Linked DNA regions of Homo sapiens: region 1 is linked to region 2. Evidence: fine-mapped expression QTL. A gene starts in region 2. The other region holds a variant in brackets. All regions are shown on one strand. Distances are between the middles of the regions. Region 1 overlaps SCARB1 (scavenger receptor class B member 1). Region 2 holds the start of SCARB1 (scavenger receptor class B member 1).

Region 1 (10,367 bases), 24 kb before region 2:
AGATGGGTTTTGAATCACATATTTCAAAATATTTGAATCTGTTGACAGTATCTTAAACCAGCAGGTAAATTCCTGCCTTCTGGCTTCTTTTGGGAACCTGGGTGATGTCCAGCTCTGGGCCTGCATGCCACGTGGCCCAGCCCGCTGGAGCAAAGCAGGAGCCGCTTCACAGTTGGGGTGTGCCCTCCAGCTTGCAACGGGCCCCACCACTCCCTATCACCTCATGCCAGGGCCCTTCCCCCATGTATGTTCCTGCACAGTTTGCAATCCCTGTCCTATAGTAACACACGATGAGAACGTGGCATTCATTCATTCATTCATTCACTCAGTCATTCATTCATTTCAACCCTGCCTGAGCATCCAAAGCGGGCGATCAGTGCTACAGGGGTAAAGTTAATCCAACAGGATTCCTGCCCTCGTGGACTGAGCAGGAAGTGGGGAAGAGGACACGCAATTCACAAGTGACTCAGGTACCCAGTAGGAAGAGCTCAGGGACATCACACGTATTCACTGGCACGCACTGGCAAGCACCAGAGGTCTCGCGCATGTGTCACTGGCCAGAATGTCCATCAGTACAGCCACCTCGGAGAGCCACTGGGCAAAATCTACTGAGGCAGAGCACGATGTTCTGAACTGCTGAACGCATCTGGAAACCACCACCTCCCATCTCTCAGGAAGCACAACAGTAAACATCTGCATTACAGAAGCCACTGGAGGCAAGTTTTATGTTGTTTCCAGCTCAAAGCATCCCATTTAAAGCAATGCTTTCATTTATTTAAACCTAACAATTAGGCTGGGTGTGGTGGCTCACACCTGTAATCCCAGCACTTTGGGAGGCTGGGGCAGGAGGATCACTGGAGCCCAGGAGTTCGAGACCAGCCTGCGCAACACAGTGAGCCCCATCTCTACAAAAAATGTTTAAAAATTTGCCAAATGTGGTAGTGTATGCCTGTAGACCCAGGTACGTGGAAGGCTGAGGCAGGAGGATCCCTTGAGCCCAGGAGATAGAGGCTGCAGTGAGCCATGATCGTGCCACTGTACTCCAGCCTGGGTGACAGAGCAAGACCCTGTCTCAAAATAAAATGAAATAAAATAAAATAGAATAAAGCTAATAATTTGTCTCCATTTTACTGATGAAGAAAGTGAAGTACAGGGAGATTAAACCACTCGCTTGCCCAAGAGCACAAACCCAATGTTGGCACAGAGTCTTGACCTTGGGTCTGACCAAAGGCTGGGCACTGCCTTGGTAAAGGCCCAGCACAGGCGTGGCAAGTAAGGAGCTCAGACCAGCGAAGAGAATGCTGGAAGGTGCATACAGTCCTGGTCCCCGGGCACAGAGATGAATCAAGCACAACCTCTCCTTCCCCGCCAAATCAGGGCCTCATCCTGCTCCCCAGTTGCACCTGCATGACGGGAACTCCAGGCAGCCCACCTCTACTTGCTTTTTTGGACAAAAACAATTTCTACCAGGGCTGATCCCAGCCCCACTGTTTCCACACAAGTCAGACAGTGAATATGCCTTCTTTCAAACACCCCAACCTCAATAAAGCTGGCTGTTTTCAAGCAAAAACATTATTCTTCTCTGTTCTTAGAAAGGTTTCAACAAGCTACAGCCTGTGGACCAAATCCAGCCTGATGCCTATTTCTACTCACCCCACAAGCTAACAATCATTTTGCATTTTCAAATGGAAAGAAGGGAAAGAGGGGAAGAAAGGGAAGAAAGAAAAGAAAGAAAGAAGGAAAGAAAGAAAGAAAGGAAGGAAGGAAGGAAGGAAGGAAGGAAGGGAGAAAAAAGAAAAGAAAGGAAAGAAAAAGAAAGAAAAGAAAAGAAAAGAAAAGAAAAGAAAAGAAAAGAAAAGAAAAGAAAAGAAAAGAAAAGTCAGCCAGCTGGGTGCAGTGCTGCACGCCTGTAATCCCAACACTTTGGGAGACCAAGGTGGGAGGGTCACTTGAGGCCAGGAGTTCAAGACGAGCCTGGGCAACATAGTGAGGACCCCCCCTACACACCCACCCACCAACCTATAAAAAAAAAAAATGAGCCAGGCGTGGTGGCACATGCCTGTTGTCCCAGCTACTCAGGAGAGTAAGGTGGGAGGATAACGAGCCCAGGAGGTCTAGGCTGCAGTGAGCCATGATGGTGCCCCTGCCCCCCAGCCTGGGTGACACAGTGAGACCCTGTCTCCAAAAAATATGTTAAAAATAAATAAACAAACAATTGAAAGAAAAATGCCATTTCATGACATGTGAAAGTTATATGAAATTCACATTTTGGTGTTCATAAATGCAGTGGCACTGGCCCACAGCGGCCACCTCGACTTATTTCTGTGTCGTCAATGGCAGCCTCAGCATCACAGCAGCAGGGCTGAGTAGCTGAGACACAACCCGTGCAGCCTGCAGAGCTGAGCATATTGACTATCTGTCTCTGTACAGAAAAGCATGCCAACCCCAGCCTAGACCACACAGAAATTCAGGAAGGGCCATCCCCTGCCAGGCCAGCTTCACGGGTGAGGCCGGATCTGGCCATTAGGGAGAGGGCCAGGGCGCAGACCTAGTTCTGGCCTCGGCTCAGTCAGCCCCTCCCACCCCGGTCCCCTGATATGCCACATGGAGACGTGACTGCCTCCCCATCCTCCCCGTGGCAGTGCAGAGAGAATGAGATGACCCAGGACATGTGTCTGTTGTGAAGAGGGCACCCGGCTATAAACATGCCTCAGGGAACTATTGTTACAGGAGCCTCCCTGAGCTCACCACTGGCTCCAGTTCAAGAACACGTCATGAAGCCAGCCAAGGTCTTGTAAAATAGGGCAACGGTGGTTTGGGCCTGGAGGAATCAGAAGCTCAGGGCTGCCTGCTTCAAAGGCTAAGTCTTCTGCAACAGGCTCAGCATGTTGGAATTTGACCCTGGCCAACAGGCTGGGCCGTCTGGTCTACCATCTACAAACCAACAGCCCAACCCATTCAAGCAGGAGGGGCCGGTACCATTTCTCCCTTCAGGTTAAACCCTGCCACAGTTTTTAATTTTAATTGGGGTAAACATAAAATTTACCAACTTAGCCTTTTTTTTTTTTTTTTTTGAGATGGAGTCTCGGTCTGTCACCCAGGCTGGAGTGCAGTGGTGTGATCTCAGCTCACTGCAACCTCTGCCTCCCAGGTTCAAGAAATTCTCTGCCTCAGCCTCCTAAGTAGCTGGGATTACAGGCGCCTGCCACCATGCCAGGCTAATTTTTGTATTTTTAGTAGAGACGGGGTTTCACCATCTTGGCCAGGCTGGTCTTGAACTCCTGACCTCGTGATCCACCCACCTTGGGCTCCAAAAGTACTGGGATTACAGGCATGAGCCACTACACGCCCAGCCCAACTTAGCCATTTTTAAGTGTACAGTTCAGTGGCATTAAGGACATTTGCAATGTTGTGCAATTATCAGCAACATCCATCTAAAGAACTCTTTCATCTTGCAAAAGTGAAACCCTGTACCCACTGAAAAAGAGCTCTGCACCCCCTCTCCCCCAGCCCCTGGCACCCACCATTCTCTTTTCTGTCTCTGTGGATCTGGCTACTCTAGGGAGCTCATGCAAATGGAATCGTACGGTATTTGTCCTGTTGTGGCTTATTTCACTCGCATAACTTCCTCAAGGCCCGTGCATGTCGCAGCGTGCGTCCAAACGTCCTTCCTTTTCCAGGCTGAATCCTATTCCAACGTGTGGATGGGCCCCAGCTTCTTACCCACCACCCATCAGCGGACACTCGGGTTGCTCCCACCGTTGGGCCATCGTGAACAGCGCTGCAATGAACGCGGTGGCCAGATTCCTCTTCAAGTTCCCACTTCCATTTCTTTGATACCCAGAAGTGGGGTTGCCCCACCATATGGTAATTCTATGTTAAATTTTGGGGGGGCCTCCACACAGCAGCTGCACCATCCTACATTCCCAACGGCACACATGGGCCCCGATTTCTCCGCACCCTCACCCCAACGGCACACATGGGCCCCGATTTCTCCGCACCCTCACCCCAACGGCACACATGGGCCCCGATTTCTCCGCACCCTCACCCCAACGGCACACATGGGCCCCGATTTCTCCGCACCCTCACCCCAACGGCACACATGGGCCCCGATTTCTCCGCACCCTCACCCCAACGGCACACATGGGCCCCGATTTCTCCGCACCCTCACCCCAACGGCACACATGGGCCCCGATTTCTCCGCACCCTCACCCCAACGGCACACATGGGCCCCGATTTCTCCGCACCCTCACCCCAACGGCACACATGGGCCCCGATTTCTCCGCACCCTCACCCCAACGGCACACATGGGCCCCGATTTCTCCGCATCCTCACCAATATTTGAGATTTTCTGTTTTCTCAAGTGACCATCCTAATGGGTATGAGTGTGTCTCACTGATTCTCATTTCCCTAACGATGAGCGAGTGTCGCTGAGCACACTTCCATGTCCCCGTTGGCTATCTGCATTTTTTTTTTTTTTAAGACAGAGTCTTGCTCTGTTGCCCAGGCTGGAGTACAGTC[T/G]TGGCTCACTGCAACCTCTACCTCCCAGGTTCAAACGATTCTCCTGCCTCAGCCTCCTGAGTAGCTGGGATTACATACAGGCGCCTGCCACCACACCCGGCTAATTTTTGTATTTTTAGTAGAGACGGGGTTTCGCCATCTTGGCCAGGCTGGCCTCGAACTCCTGACCTTGTGATCCGCCCACCTTGGCCTCCCAAAGTGCTGGGATTACAGGCGTGAGCCACCGCGCCTGGCTGCCTGCATGTCTTCTTTGCAGGTGCTTGGTCCGTGTTTTAATGGGGTTGTCTGACTCTTGTTGTTGAGTTGTCCTCGCTTGATTTTAGGACCAGAGTTAAGGCCCACACTCCATCTGCTCTCAACCTCCCTCCCCCGATCTTCTCGTCTCGGAAAATGGCTCCACCATCTACCAAACTCCTCAAACCTTGAGGAACCACCCTTGATTCCTCTCCTTCCCTCGCACCCCAGTCCACTGACCTATCTTGTTGACTCTCCCTGAAAAAAAACTCGAATATGTTCCCTTCTTTCCATTTAGAAAACTACCCCCACCTGGCTCAAATCACCATCTTCTCTGCCTCCCCGCTTCCAGCCTGGCCCCCGACACTCCCTTCTCCAGACAGCAGCCAGAGAGCTCTTCAAGACTGAGTCAGGCTGGGCGTGGTGGCTCACACCTGTAATCCCAGCCCTTTGGGAGGCCAAGGCAGGTGGATCACCTGAGGTCAGGGGTTCAAGACCAGCCTGCCCAACATGGTGAAACACCATCTTTACGAAAAATACAAAAATTAGCCGAGTGTAGTGGCACGCACGTGTAATCCCAGCTACTCAGAAGGCTGAGGCAAGAAAATTGCTTGAGGCTGGGCGCGGTGGCTCACGCCTGTAATCCCAGCACTTTGGGAGGCCGAGGTGGGCGGATCACGAGGTCAGGAGATTGAGACCATGCTGGCTAACACGGTGAAACCCCGTATCTACTAAAAATACAAAAAAATTAGCCGGGCGTGGTGGCGGGCGCCTGTAGTCCCAGCTACGCGGGAGGCTGAGGCAGGAGAATGGCATGAACCAGGGAGGCGGAGCTTGCAGTGAGCGGAGATTGCGCCACTGCACTCCCCCGCCTGGGCAACAGAGCAAGACTCCGTCTCAAAAAAAAAAAAAAAAGAGAATTGCTTGAACTCGGGAGGCGGAGGTTGCAGTGAGCTGATACCATGCCACTGCACTCCAGCCTGGGCGACAGAGAAAGACTCTGTCTCAAAAAAAAAAAAAAAAAATACTGAGTCAGATCATGGCTCTTCCCTGCTCAGAACCCTCCATGGAATTGAAAACCAAATCTGAACTCCTCCAGGTGTCCTGCAAGGCCCCCACATGCCTGTCCCCTTTCACCCCCTCCAGTCACTTCTCCCAACCCCACTGGCCTGCTCCCTCTTCCTCCAACACAGCAGGCTCCTTCGCACCTCCGGCCTTTGAACCTGCTGTGCTCTTTGCCAGCTGCTCCCCAGCTCATAGAGCCCCTCCTCTGAGAGGCCCTCCTGACTCCCACATCAGAAGGAGTCCCCTTCCCAGCAGTGGCTCCATGTCAGCTCACCTGCCTCGTCCCCTTCCTAGCTCTTCTCGCCACCCCACCTCTTCCATGTGCTTCTCCATGGCCCATCCCTCCTGCTAAAGCGTAGCTGCCGTGAGCAGGACCAGGTCTCTTTTGTCCACGGCTGTAGCTCCAACACTTGGCACGAGACCTGGCCCACAATTTGTGAGCAGTAAACATGGGCCGAAAGGATGAGTAGCTTTCCCTGCCACTTCAGCCCTGGGGGTCCCTCCTCCTCCTCCCACAGTCCTGTGTGCCCCATTCAGGTGGTTCATAAACAGCTGCCCGGAGCAGATTCTCCACTGGGGTTTGTCCCATCTGTAAAATGAGGGTTGTAAATGTGCCCAAACAGCTGGGGATGAATGCAAAGCGCCCCACGCCCCGTGTCACTCCCAGCCAGGAGCAAGAGGGCACCATGCCAGTGCTGCCTCTGGCCCAGGCAGTCACCTGTCCAGGGGAAACAGGCCTCTAAGGCTCCAATGGCCTCACGCACTGGAGTTCATCAATAACACAAGCCGAGAAAGCCCCAGGAAAGCTGGAGACGCTGCCGGAAATGCAAAGCTGCTCATTCTTCCATCCGTCCCAGCTAAAGGGGTTCGAGGAAGCTCCTCCCCACACACCTCCCAGGGTGGAAGGGGACCTCATATCTCAGCGGGGCTCTGGCCCTGGCCCCAGCATCCCAGTCCCTGTCTCTTCTCCCTGCCCCCACCAAGGACACAGATGCCCAGGCCTGCTGGCAGCTTCATCACACTTATCTGCACTCCCAAGCCACAGATTACAGCTGTCAGGCCCAGAGGAAACGTGGCGGTCACATCAACCCTGACTCTGAAAACAGCCCTGAAAGACACAGGGGTGTTTCCAGCACAGCAAGGTCTTACTGGAAAGGACCCCTGGACCCCAATGTCCTAGAGGTGTGCCCCACGACCCCACATGCCCCTCTTCACTGCTCTGGCCTTTGGGAAACACAGCCCTGTCCTTTACAAGGTCCTATTTGCAAAGCCTGCTGGGAGACAGAGGCCCAGGGCTCGGATGAGGATGGGTTCTGTGCGGGAACAAGAGATGCCAAGATCCACCTAGGTGCCCCAGCCAAGAGGCAGAAAAGCATGGGAACCGTGTGCCCTTGTGGGACGTGTGCCACGGACGGGAAGGATACGGGTGTGGGTCCCCCTCTGTGGACGCAAACATGTTTATTGCAGGAAGGAAAAACAAGGAACTATTAACCCAAGTCACCTCTGGAGCAAAGACCAGCTGGGGCCAGGGGAGCAGTGTCGTGCTGTGATCTTTCCAGAAGGCTGACTCTTTTTCCGTACACTTTTAATTTGTTTGATCATATCCCTATTTTACCTTCCTTATTTTTAATGCCAGCCAGGGCTTTCTGGGTAAGAGCTGGGCACACCCAGGGAGAGGCACGTGACCATCCGCAGCTGCTCTCCTTGGCCTCCAGTTTGTTTTGTTTTTGTTTCTTACTTTCTGTGGAGATGGGGGGGGGGGTCTTACTATGTTACCCAGGCTGGTCTTGAACTCCTGGCCTCAGGCGATCCTCCCACCTCTGCCTCGCTAAGTGCTGGGATTACAGGCATGAGCCACTGCGCCTGGCCTTGACTTCTGGTTTGTGAGATGGAAGAACATTGGCCCCATGTGCAGAGGTGGAAATCGGCTTTTAGGAAAAAAGTGAGTTTCCACAGGACCCAAGTAATGGGACCTGGATTTGAACCCAGAGCTCTGCAGATCTGAGGATTGGGCACCTGCACACATAGTGCTGGTCTGAAGCATGTCCCCTGCCAAATTCATGCCCACCTAGAACCTCAGAATGTGGCCTTATTTAAAAATAGGGTCTCTACAGATGTTACCAAGTTAAGGATCCCAAGATGAGATCATCCTGGATTTATGAAGGGCCCTACATCCAAGCTGGAGGCCCTCCAAGCCCAAGCTGGTGGGGTCTAGCCCCAGTTTGCTCTGTGACCCTCCAACATGGCCCTCAAAATCTCTGAGCCTCAGACCCCCACCTGAGGACTTATGAAAGGAAGAAGACTCAAATTCACACCTCAGAAAAGCACATGAGAACAATGCTGCACCACGTACCCTCACTGAGACCCCAGACATTCTCGAAGACTAAATCGTCTCAGGTGCTGGAGAGGATGTGAGAGCTGGGAGGGTGAACAGCAGTGGCCCTTCTGGAAGGCATGTTGGGTGAAAATGGCTCCCCCTCTGCCCTACAGCAATTCCACTCCTGCGCATCCCCAGGAAATTGTGGAGAAGTACAAGGCAGCAGGGTCCAGCATATTTGCTGTTTGTGGAGGCAGGAGTCAGACATAACCAAGGTACCCCCGTCGCTAAGGGAATAAATACAACAGGATGAACATGAATTAGGGGGTCCAGGCAGCAGAAGGAAGCAATAAGCCTGATACACACATAGGAACACGGATAGATTTTAAACAGGGCAGCACGAGGAATGTTGACACGAGTTACCGTGCATGGCATGGAAAAGCCGCCCTCTCCTCAGACGTGACAGGCCACATGAAGGGGGCCTCCCTGTGCCACCCCCAGCTCAAAGCACTTCCACCTCTAGCTCCCTCGGTCCTCACTGAATCCTATAGGAAGGCATGGTTTTAGCCCATTTTATAGGCACCCTACTATTATGAGCTGAACAGTGTCCCCCCAAAATTCCCATGTTGCAGCCCTAACCCTCGGTGCATCAGAATGTGACTGTATTGGCGCGGGGGGCAGGGCCTTTAAATCGGTGATTACGTTTAAATGAGGTCAGTGGGGTGAGCCCTAATCCAATCTGACTGACGCCCTTAAAAGAGGAGATTAGGACCCGCAGAGAGTCACCGGGGATGTGCGCACACAGGGAGAAGGTGGCGTCTATGAGGCCGGGAGAGGGGTCTCCGGAGAAGCCAGCCCTGCCAACATCCTGATCTCAGACTTCCGGCCTCCAGAACTGTACGGGAATACATGGTCTTTGGCCCATGCACCTGTTATGGACATTTTTTTCTTTCTTTCTTTCTTTTTTTTTTTTTTTTGAGACAGAGTCCTGCTCTGTTGCCCAGACTGGAGTGCAGTGGCACGATCTCGGCTCACTGCAACCTCTGCCTCCCATGCAGACTCAGACACCCACCAGAGACCAGAGACTCGAAGAGCCTGTCCATGGTCACACAGCAGCAGGAGGCAGGGCCGGGATCTGGACCCACACCTGCAGGCTCCGGAATCTAGGACTGCACAAGGTCCAAGGACACACTCAGGTTTACAGACGCAGCCACACAGAGGATGGGCGCAGGGGCAGGGCGGGCTGAAGAGCGAGAGGGGTGAGGGGAAGGAGGGCATAAAAGGAGACCACTGAAAGCAGAAGCCAAGCGAGTTCCCGAACATGCGCGCTCCCAGCAGCACCGCTCCCGGCAGCCACCAGCCCAGACGCCCATCCACAGAGGCGCGGAAAAACAGCATGCAGTGCACCCGCACCGTGGAGGCCTGCTCAGCTACAAAAAGGAAAGCAGCACTCCACATGCCACACCACGGATGAACCCCAAAACATGACGCTAAGCGGAAGCAGCCAGGCACTTAAGGCCACACATTGCATGATTTCATTTATAAGAAATGTGCAGGGCCGGGCACGGTGGCTCAGGCCTGTAATCCCAACACTTTGGGACCGAGGCAGGTGTTTGACCTGAGGTCAGGAGTTTGAGACCAGCCTGGCCAACATGTGAAACCCCGTCTATATTAAAAATACAAAAAAAAAAAAAAAAAATTAGCCGGGCGTGGTGGCGGGCGCCTGTAGTCCCAGCTACTGGGGAGGCTGAGGCAGGAGAATCGCTTGAACCCAGGAGGCGGAGGTTGCAGTGAGCCGAGATCACGCCACTGCATTCCAGCCTGGGTGACACAGCAAGACTCTGCCTCAAAAAAAAAAGAAATGTCCAGGGCCGGGCACGGTGGCTCAGGCCTGTAATCCCAACACTTTGGGACCAAGGCAGGTGGATGACCTGAGGTCAGGAGTTTGAGACTAGCCTGGCCAACATGGTGAAACCCGTCTCTACTAAAAATACAAAAAAAAAAAATTAGCCGGGTGTGGTGACAGGCGCCTGTAGTCCCAGCTACTCGGGAGGCTGAGGCAGAAGAATCGCTTGAACCCGGGAGGCGGAGGTTGCAGTGAGCCAAGATTGCACCACTGCACTCCAGCCTGGGCGACAGAGCAAGACTCTGTCTCAAAAAAAAAGAAAGAAAGAAAGAAAGAAATGTCCGTAACAGGTGCATCTGTAGAGACAGAAAGAAAATGAGTGAT
Region 2 (10,367 bases):
CTCCAGCCTGGGCGACAGAGCGAGACTCCATCTCAAAAAAGAAAAAAAAAAATAGCATTACAGATAAAGTATTAGGTTTCCTTTGGCCACACCCCCAGTGTCCTGCCTTCTCTCATTAGAGTAGCCACTTCTGTTAGTCTCACCTTTTCCCAAACTTTAACATATTCTAATATTAAGCCATTGAAAATAATGGCAGGGCGCGGTGGTTCACACCTATCATCCCAGTGTTTTGGAAGGCCAAGGCAGAAGGATCACTTAAGGCCAGGAGTTCGAGACCAGCCTGGGTAACATAGTGAGACCTTGTCTCTACGAAAATAAAAATAAAAATGGAAAGAAAATATAGAATATTGTTTGGTGGGTTTTTTTTAAACATAAATAGCACCAGAGCTTTTTTCAATTAGTAATGTGTTTTTATGGCCTACCCATGCTGAGACATATTTCTAAGTTCCTTCATTTTTTTTTTTTTTTTTTTGAGATGGAGTCTCACTCTATTACGCAGGCTGGAGGGCAGTGGCGTGATCTCAGTTCACTGCAACCTCAGCCTTCCAGGTTCAAGCTATTCTCCTGCTTCAGCGTCCCGAATAGCTGGGATTACAGGCGTGCACCACCATGTCCAGCTAGTTTTTGTATTTTTTAGTAGAGACAGGGTTTAGCCATGTTGGCCAGGCTGGTCTCAAACTCCTGACCTCAGGTGATCCGGTGAATAATGAAGACATGGTTCAGATCCCTGGGGGCACACATCCAAGTTCTGTGAAAAGGACATAGACATGAAATGTGGACAAGAAGCCATTCTTAAGAAATTCAGTCTAAAGAAGCAGGCCAAAGGGAAAAAGATGTCAACTAGTGTGACAATATCCACATCTTCACCCCAGCTCATCATTGAAGACAGCAGCCTCGGAAGATGAGCATCCCTTTTTTGCAGCCCAGCTGCAGTGAGGGGCCTCTCCCCCATGTCCACCAGCTGGGCCTTCCTTGGAGGACCAGAGACACACGGGAACTTGGCTACCAAAAAATGGTAATGATAAATCAGTAATTACCAGTGATGGCAGAGATAGGGGAAGTAGCACAGTCCCATACCTTGTGGGTGGATGCAGCAACAGAGCTGTGCAGAAGGGCAATTTGGCCGTAATCATCAAAACTCAAACTGAGCACACCTGCTCCCAAGGCCCCACTTCTAGAAATCCACCCTATGGAAATGTTCATGAACCACACGAAGAGGGATGTGTCGGGATATCGCTGTCATTTGTGACAGAGAAAATGATCAGTCAATGGAGAAACAGGTAAACAAGTCTATAACCATTCAAAGGAATACCAGCAGTGATGAAGGAAAACGCGGGGTAGACTTATTGCTGAGACATGGAAAATTTTTCAGCTGGTATCTTTGAATTGAAAAACAAATTGCAAGATAATTATACATGTTCAAGTTCACCTACACTTAGTTCAAGTTATGTAAAATATATATTAATATGTATACATACAGGCTCCTGGTACACAGAAAAGGGTCTAGAAAGATCCACATCAATGATGGTGATAATAGCTCAGGAGGGGAATAAAATGGGGGAAACTTTCTCTCTTTTCCTCCATTTGAACTTTTTTTTACGAGCAAGTATTCATATATTTTATATAAAGTCGTCCCTCAATGTCAGAGGGGAATTGGTTTCAGGACCCCCATAGATACCAAGATCTGCAGATGCTCAAGTCCCCGACATAAAATGCTGTGGTATTTGCATATCACCTATGCGCATCCTCCCGTATTCTTTAAATCATCTCTAGGTTACTTATAATACCTAATACGATGTAAATGCTATGTCAATAGTTGTTATACAGTATTGTTTTTATGTCTTTTTTTAGTTGTATTGTTATTTTGGGGGGATTTTTTCTGAAAACTTTTCATCTGCAGTTGATTGAATCCACGGATGCAGAACCTGCAGACACAGAGGGCCAACTGTAGGGACTTCTGTTGTTAACCAAAAAGCACATTAAAAAAAAAAAATAAAAGCACAAGGCCTCCCATTCAAGTTGCACACAGACTCATGTAGCCAAAGAAAACACCAGCGGGCAGTCCCTGCTTATGCGTGTGTCTCACCCGCCTGGTCCCCTGAACACAGGCTCTCTTCTTCCATGCTAAGGCACTTGGCCGCTGCTCCAGCCTGGGCGGTTCCAGAAGTGGCCGTCTTGGGCTGGGCGTGTCTTCCTGCCTTCACACCACTCGGCCCCAAACCAATCGCCTTTGGGATATCCACAGAAGGATGCTGGGAGGCTCCTGTTCAACTTTAAGCCAGATGCTCCTAGCTCCAGGACAATTGAGGACAATGTGGTTTTCCTCTTTAGAAGCCCAGGAGAGGAGTGGGGAAATTTGGTGGTGCATGCATGTGTGGTGCACACACACACACACACATCCTACTGACATACTTAACCTGATGACATCCTGAGAAAGAAAACACCTTGAAATAAGCCCCCGAATAACTGAGTTGGCAAGACTCTTTACCTGGCATAAGTCCCCACACTCCCATAGCAAGAGACCAGGTGCTCACTCACAGCACAGGGTCACATGCTTGAACTGCCTGAGTGATAGCCCCTCTAGGGACCCTGCATACACACAGTGGGGTCCTGGCACTGCAGCAGCCACAAGGCTGTCACTGACACACACGTTTCAGTATGAGTAGGCCACAGAAAAATAAAGCTCCCTCAGTGTAACAGAGAAAGCCTCTGAGCTGTCATGGGGGAGAAGAGGCCATTCTGCTGATTTTCCTGCCATCCCCAGAGACAGTGTCACCATCCACCGGGACCTCTTTGCAGTCAGATTACAGGCTTTGGCGGGACAAGATTTGAAAAATCAAAAATAGACACAACGTGGCTAAGATGCCCTAGACAACTGCTCACCCAGAGACCTTGAGAGAGACCATATGTTGCTCCATCTTTAAGGCCAGCTAGCTGGGTCCCAAGAAGTGTGGCAGCCAGATCTAAGCAGATCCTTCATTCATTCACTCATTCATTCGCTCTGTGAATGAGGGAACAGACATGAAATGTGGACAAGGAACCATTCTTAAGAAACCCAGTCCAAAGAGGCAGGCCAAGGGGAAAAGACGTCCATTAGAGTGACAATGTCCACATCTTCACCCCAGCTCTGCATCTGGCTAGAACTTTGATAAGAGTGAGCCCCAGTTTCCCCTCCCCGCCACTGCATGTGTGGGTTCCCAGGGCTTCAAAACTCTAAATGGCTTTTAGTTCAAATGTGATACTCTGCAATCTCCCAGCCCTTCCCTAACTCCAGGCTCATTCAAACAGGCCACCCAGGCACCCAGGGCAGAGTCTGTCCGTCTGCAGACCAGCTGACCGCCTAATCTGTCTCCCTGGTTGAAAGGGCAATGGTATGCAAAGTTAGGATCAGAGGAAAGACCTAAGGCTGCGTGCACTCAGAGGACCTTGGGCTGCTGCCTGCCTCTGCATGAATCTGGGGAGAAAAGCGGCTTATAGTTTCCAGACTGAATCATGGAGGCAGTGAGCAGGGAGAACAGAGTCGCGCATTCTGCCTCTGGGAGAGGGTTCCTATGGGGAGATTCTGGGCAGTGGAGGATGCTCAGCTGAGCACCTACCATGTGAGCTGGGCACCCACGTGGGTCTCACAGAAGGTTCCTGTCCTCCTGGGCTCACAGGATACAAGCAAAGTGCAGCTCTAATTTTACCGGACCCTGCTACCGGCTGCTGTGAAAGCAGACGTTCACACACTCTTGGGCTCCTTCGGGCGGCACCACGGAAGCAACCTGTCCACACTCCTGATCCGTCGTGGGCGCCCAGACCCTTTAGGGCGGGTCAGGCGCCCGGGTGGTCTCCCGTCCAGGCCTCCCCAACCCTGGCCTGCGCCTCCAGCAAAGCCCCTGGGTTCCCCCCTAGCCTCAGTCTGGGGCGGTGAGGGTGGTGGGGAGGCGGGCAGCAGCCCCTCCCGAAGCGCCTGGCCTCCCTCGTGCTCTGCGGCGCCAGGCCCGGGCGCCGATTCCGCTGCGGTCGCCCACCCACCGCAACGCGCGGGTCCTCCCGGCGCCCAGCGCCCAACAGCCCGGGTCCGTGCGCGGACCCCCTGGGGTCTCCCTCACCCACCTTAAGGACCTGCTGCTTGATGAGCGACGGCACCATCACGATCATGACAGCGCCCAGCACAGCGCACAGTAGCCCCGCGACGCCCAGCGCCCCGGCAGCCCAGCGCGCTTTGGCGGAGCAGCCCATGTCTGCGCGCCTGGGGCCCACCCGCGGCTCGCAGGGCTCCGCGCCTGGCAGGAGACGGGGACGGCGACAGAGACGACACAGGCGGGGACTCCGGGCACGCAGGCCGCAGAGGCACGGTGGATCCGGGACGGCAGCGCACGCAGGAGCAGCCCGGCAGGTGGCCAGTGGTTTTATGCCCCATCGCCGGCGCCGCCGGACCGCCCCCGGGCAGCCTTGGGCTTCAGGATTCCGGCGGCAGGGGCGGGGCCTGAGCGGGCCCGGGGCGGGGTCGGGGCGGGGACGGGGCGGGGCGCTGATCGGACGGGCAGGGGGCGGGGCCATGGCCGCCAAGACAAGCCCCGCCATGCTGCCGCTGCCCCCACGGCCTCGCTTCCGTTTTGGGGCGGGAGCTGAGGAGGCCTCGTGGCCGCTGAGCCAAAACGTCTATGGGGCCTGGTGCCCCTCACCCTCTTGCTCCCTTCCCCTTTCTCCTACCCCTTCCCCCACCTATGTCTCCCCTCCTCCCAGCTCTCCCCTCTGAGCCCCTCACCCTTCCTTTTCCCTCCTCCTCCCTCTCCTCCTCTATCGGGACCATCATCATGGTTGGTCACTGTGAGTAGGACTTCGCCAGCCCACCCAGGAACCCCAGAGCCCTTACAACGGTCCACATGCCCCGCCACCACCTTCTAGACCCTCATCTCCGCAGTCCATCTCCAGCCTCACTGTCCCTGGAAGAAGCCCCGCAGGCTCCAGCCCCAGGGCCTCCATACACCCTGCACAGGCAATTCTGTTCTCCCAGGTATCCGCCTGGCCCTATCCTTCGTAACGCTGGTGCCACCATCACCCTATGACTGAGCACCCCCTGGCAGGTTCACGTTCATTTGCGTCCTTGCATTCTGACCATGTGCTCCAACTGGGATGCCAACCCGTGAGGCGGGCCCCCCCCCCCACGCGTCCTGAGCTCTAGAACGTGGCCTGGCAGGGAATGCCTGCTCACAGTAAATATTCTAGAATGAATGACTGAGGAGCCTTCTAGGTGCTGGCCCCTGTCCTGAGTGCTTTGCACACAATGGCTCCATTTTACAATAAGAAAACTGGGAGGTGGCTCACGCCTGTAATCCCAGCACTTTGGGAGGCCGAGGCGGGTGGACTTCATGGATCACCTGAGGTCGGGAGTTGGAGACCAGCCTGACCAACATGGCGAAACCCCGTCTCTACTAACAATACAAAATTAGCCAGGCGTAGTGGCGCATGCCTGTAATCTCAGCTACTCGGGAGGCTGAGGCAGGAGAATCGCTTGAACCCGGGAGGCGGAGGTTGTGGCGAGCCGAGATAGCGCCATTGCACTCCAGCCTGGGCAACAAGAGCGAAACTCCATCTCAAAAAAAAAAAAAAAGAAAAGAAAAAGAAAAAGAAAGAAAGAAATGAAAACTGATGCACAGGGAAGCTTAGTTAACCCAAACCAAGTCCCCACTTTCTAATGAAGAGGGAAACCAATGATGAGCACGTGAGCAAATGAATGAAGGATAATTGCAGGCAAGTGCTCCAAGAAAACAGAACAGGCCCGGTGCATGGTGGCCCACAACTGTAATCCCAGCACTTTGGAAGGTCCAGGTGAGGGATCACTTGAGGCCACTAGTTGGAGACCAGCCTGGGCAACATAGTGAGACCAGTCTCTACAGAAAATGAAAAGATTAACCAGCCACAGTGGCATGCGCTTGTCGCCCCAGCTACTCAGGAGGCTGAGGCAGAAGGATCCCTTGAGTCCCAGAGTTCAAGGCTGCAGTGAGCCCTGATCTTACCACCGCACTCCAGCCTGGGTGACAGCAAGACCCTGGGGGAAAAAGAAAAAAGAAAAAAGGGAGAGAAGTGGGCTGGCACTAAGTGGCAGTTGCCCTTAGATGGGTGAGTGTATCCCTGAAGCCCTCCACGCCCCCCTGAAGTCCTCCACCACACCCCACCTGGCCTGCCTTCTGGTCCCTGAAGTGCTGGCCAGTCCCCTCATTTTCTGAATGAAGTTACTGAGAAGAGACTCCTGGGTTACACAGGGACAGGAGGGTGGTGTCCCCAGCACGTGGGTAAGGCAGGCTCAGTCCTTGAGTGCTCCGAGGGAGGCTTTCTAAACCTCTTATTTAACTCCAGAAGAAAGCAGCCTTCTCGCAGGGCCATCCTTAAGCAACATGTCTTCGCCTGAACCAATATTTACAGAGCACCTGCTATGTTCTCGTTAGACAGCTTTGCCTGGCACTGCCTTCCTCTAAGGAGGCCGAATATGGTCCAGTGCCCCAAGGGGCAGGGCCCAACTCCTGAGGGAGGTCAGAGTGGCTGAGGTGAGACTGTGGTAGCCCCGGGGGACAGGTTCAGAGAAATCCAGGCTCTGGGGTTTCCCACATTGGAGTCCTGGGGCAAGTGGTTTGGGCCTTTCTGTGCCTCAGTCTCCTCATCTACGAAACGGGGATTAGAAGAGCCCCTTTCCAAGGGCTACCATGAGGATTAAACAAGTCAAAAAATGTGCCAGTGCTTAGAACAGTCCCTGGAATGTGTCAGTGCAACTGAGCTGGGGAGTGTCGTCGTTATTTTCCGGACCCACATGAACTGGCGCCTGCCCATCTCTCTGCCTCCATCTCCTGCCCTCTCCCCCATTGTTTCAGTTCATTGAGCATCCCCAGCTTTTTCTTGTGTCAGGAACTTTGCACTTCCTGTTCCTCTGTCTAGGATACGCTTCCCCTAGATCCTTCCATGGCTCCCCACTCTCCTCTTCTGGGCTCAGCTGAAACCCACTCCTCAGAGAAGCCTTTGCTGTTGCATCTGTTGAAAACAGGAGTCCCAGCCCACTCTGTCAGGCCACCTTGCTTTGTGTGAAATGGTCTTATCTGTTTCCTTGTTCATCTCCTCCAGCTCCCGAGAGACAGAAGCTGACCCTGTTTTGCTTATCGATGTATCTCCAGCACCTGGAAAAATGCCTGGCACATAGCAGGTACTCAATAAATACTTTACTCAATCAGCTAATTAACTCATTAATTAATCAAGTAACTGATCGATTGATTAATTAATTAATATCACTTCATTGAATTCCTTAAGGCCTTCAACAGCCTTCAGCTATGCAGTTGCCTTTTTTTTTAATGACTTTTGTAGTTCTCGGAAATTAGCCAGTTAACTAAAATCTGCGGTCTGCCTGGCCCTGACACCCTCCTCCACTTCCTTGATACTGACCTGCCTTGACCATCTCACCCAATCTAACTCTGATTCATGACCAAGTCTTCAAGGTCCAAATGTACGTGATGCTTACCCAAGAGGGCTGCAAGGCCATGGCTGGAGAGCCCTCATGTCACGCCATGCTGTCACTCGAGAGAGAAGGGCAGAGATGAAAGGGTGATGGGACACGTGAGCCACCTTGGCCTTGCTGAGGGGAGTCACTTCCGGTGGCAGGGAGGGCAGCTTAAGAAGGGAAAAAAAGACTTCGTCATGTTTGAGAGAGAGGTCTTGCCCTGGGGAAAGTCGAAGATACAGAAGAAAAGAAAGAGTGCTGATAACAAAATATGATCAACATGGTGTCACAGGGCTCCTGGAAAATCAAGTCAGATGCTTTTCCTCCTCTGCTCAGAGTCCTTTCGTGATCAAAGACGGAGAATGACTGCAGGCAAAGACCTGGAGGAGTTGGAAGCCTCTTGAGGTGCTTGTGGGATTGTAAAATGGTGCAGCCTCAAAAGGTAAACATAGGGGTCCCCTAAGACCCAGCAGTTCCACTCCTGGGTATATGCCCAGGAGAAAGGAAAGAGCATGTCCACACGGAAGCCTGGACACAAATGTTCACAGCAGCCAAGCAGTGAAAATAACCCACACCCCCATCAGCTGGTGAATAGGTAAATAAAATGTGGCATAACCACGCACTGGAATATGACTCAGCATAAAAAGGAATGAAGGGCTGACGCGTGCTACACCATGGATGAACCTTGAAAACATTGATAAGTGAAAGAAGCCAGACACAAAGGCCACATGTATGATTCTGCTTATATAAAATGTCCATAGTAGGCACATCTATGGGGACAAAAAGTAGACCAGTGGTTGCCAGGGGCTGGGGAGAATGAGGAGTGACTGCTACAGGTTTGGGGTTTCATCTTGGAGTGGTGAAAATGTTCTAAAAGTGACGGTAAAAGTGATGGTAATGATGGTTGCACAACTCCGTGAATATACAAAAAACCATCAAATTACACACTTTATTTACTTTTTCTTTTTTTCAAGAGACAGGGTCTCACTCTGTCACCCAGGCTGGAGTGCAGTCTTGAAGTCTTGGGTTCAAACCATCCTCCCGCCTCGGCCTCCTGACTAGCTTGGACAACAAGTATATGCCACTATGTACACCTGATGTTTTCATTTTTGTTGAGACAGGGTCTCACTTTGTTGCCCAGGCTGCTCTCAAAATTCTGGTCATCCTCCCACCCTGGCCTCCCAAAGCGCTGGGATTACAAGTGTGAGCCATCATGCCTGGCCAAATTATATACTTTAAATGGGTGAATGTATGATATGCAAATTATATCTCAATGAAAACTGTTATTTTAAAGAAATGGCCAGGCATGGTGGCCCATGCCTATAATCCCAGTGCTTTTGGAGGCTGAGGCAGGAGGATCCCTTGAGGCCAGGAGTTCGAGATCAGCCTGGGCAACACAGCCAGACACCATCTCTACAAAAAATAAAAAGTTAGCCAGGTAAAGTGGCACACACCTCTAGTTTCAGCTACTGAGGAGGCTGAGGTGGGAGAATCACGTGAGCCCAGGAAGTCGAGGCTGCAGTGAGTGAGCTGTGATTGTGTCACTGCACTCCAGCCTGGGCAACACAGTGAGACCCTGTCTCTCAAGAAAACAAAAAGAAAGAAACCTTTCCGTGGCTCCCACCTCATTCAGCATAAAAGCCAAAGCCCTCACCATGGCCCACAAGATCACCACATCTCATACTAGAGAGACAAAGTCAAAACGCACCCAGATGGGCACATCTCCCTGACCTCATCCCCCTCCCTCTCCTTGCCCACTCTGCTCCAGCCACATCCTCCTCCCTGGAGCTCCTCCACCTGTTGCCCGGCTCGTGCCCCAGAACCTTTGCACTCCCTGGTCCCCTCCTGGAATGCTCCTCTCCCTAACACCCAGGAGACTCACCCTCCCTTCCTTCAGGTCCTTGCTCCAATGCCATCTTCTCAGCAATGACTTCCTTCCTGCCCACCCTTTGAAAGTTACAAACCACCCATAGGACCCTCCCTATCCCCCTTGGCTGCTTCATTTCTCTCTGTGCACCGACCGCCCTCCAGGGCGGGTGTTTGCTTGTTTGATTGGCTTCCTTCCTCTTCTAGGATAAAAAAAGCTCCACGGGGCAGGAATCTGCCTGTTTCGTCCATTGCTGTGCCCCCGGCTCCCCAACAGCACGTGGCCCACAGTAGGCCCTTGGTCGGTGTGTGTGGATGAACCACATCTACCAGAGTCCAAGGTAAAAGCTTGCCTCTGCCGCCGGAACACGCAGCTGCCTGGCATGGCGGCCTGGGGCAAGTTGCTCAGCCTCTCTGTGCCTCGGCTCCCTTATCGGTGCCTTGGGATTGGTCTGAGTCATGCCTGCACCCTGGGGTGGTCATGAGGATTACATGGGCTCATCTTGGTCATATGCTTAGCAAGGTGCCTGTGTGAGGCGGAGCCAACACCTCCTGCAGGCAGCCGCATTCCCACCCCAGCCTGGGAAGAATCACGCTCATCCCCAGCGGCAATAGAACACAGTGAATGGAAGCTGAAGGGCTTCCTTAAAGGAGGCACAGCTGGCTCCTGGCGAGCAGAGAGCAGAGATGTGAACCAGTGACTTGCCACACACATGACCACTACGCTGTTTGCTGAGGGAAAGGAAAAAGAGGAAGAAAGTGAAGGAAAGCAAAGAGACGGGTGAGAGAAAGGACAAAATAAAAAGCAAAGGAAGAGGAAACCTTATTTTTTTTTCTTTTGAGGTGGAGACTCGCTCTGTGGCCCAGGCTGGAATACAGTGGTGTGATCTCAGCTCACTGCAACCTCCGCCTCCCGGATTTAAGCAGTTCTCCCTGTCTCAGCCTCCTGAGCAGCTGGGATTACAGGTGCATGCCACACGACTGGCTAATTTTTTTTTTTTTTTTTAAGAAGAAGTCTTACTCTGTCGCC

Evidence for each region. PIP is the estimated chance that this variant, and not a neighbour inherited with it, causes the effect.
Region 1: its variant is fine-mapped to the expression of SCARB1 in testis (GTEx, PIP above 0.99).

The regions. Positions count from the first base shown.
Region 1 is chr12:124,835,720-124,846,086 of GRCh38, forward strand. The region is part of intron 1 of SCARB1 (scavenger receptor class B member 1); the gene reads right to left. Among named protein-coding and RNA genes, the nearest start is that of SCARB1, 23 kb to the right of the region's middle. RefSeq lists enhancers at 3,589-4,115, 4,116-4,640. The variant T/G (reference allele first, on the strand shown) is at 4,522.
Region 2 is chr12:124,859,497-124,869,863 of GRCh38, forward strand. SCARB1 (scavenger receptor class B member 1) reads right to left here and starts at 4,368. Exons shown (of 13, transcript NM_005505.5): 1 at 4,099-4,368. The coding sequence starts at 4,224. LOC105370050 (a long non-coding RNA gene) reads left to right here and starts at 4,566. Exons shown (of 3, transcript XR_945488.3): 1 at 4,566-6,108; 2 at 7,102-7,180. RefSeq lists enhancers at 2,196-2,722, 4,816-5,015, 6,403-6,572, 7,001-8,200 and silencers at 2,546-2,675, 3,906-4,585.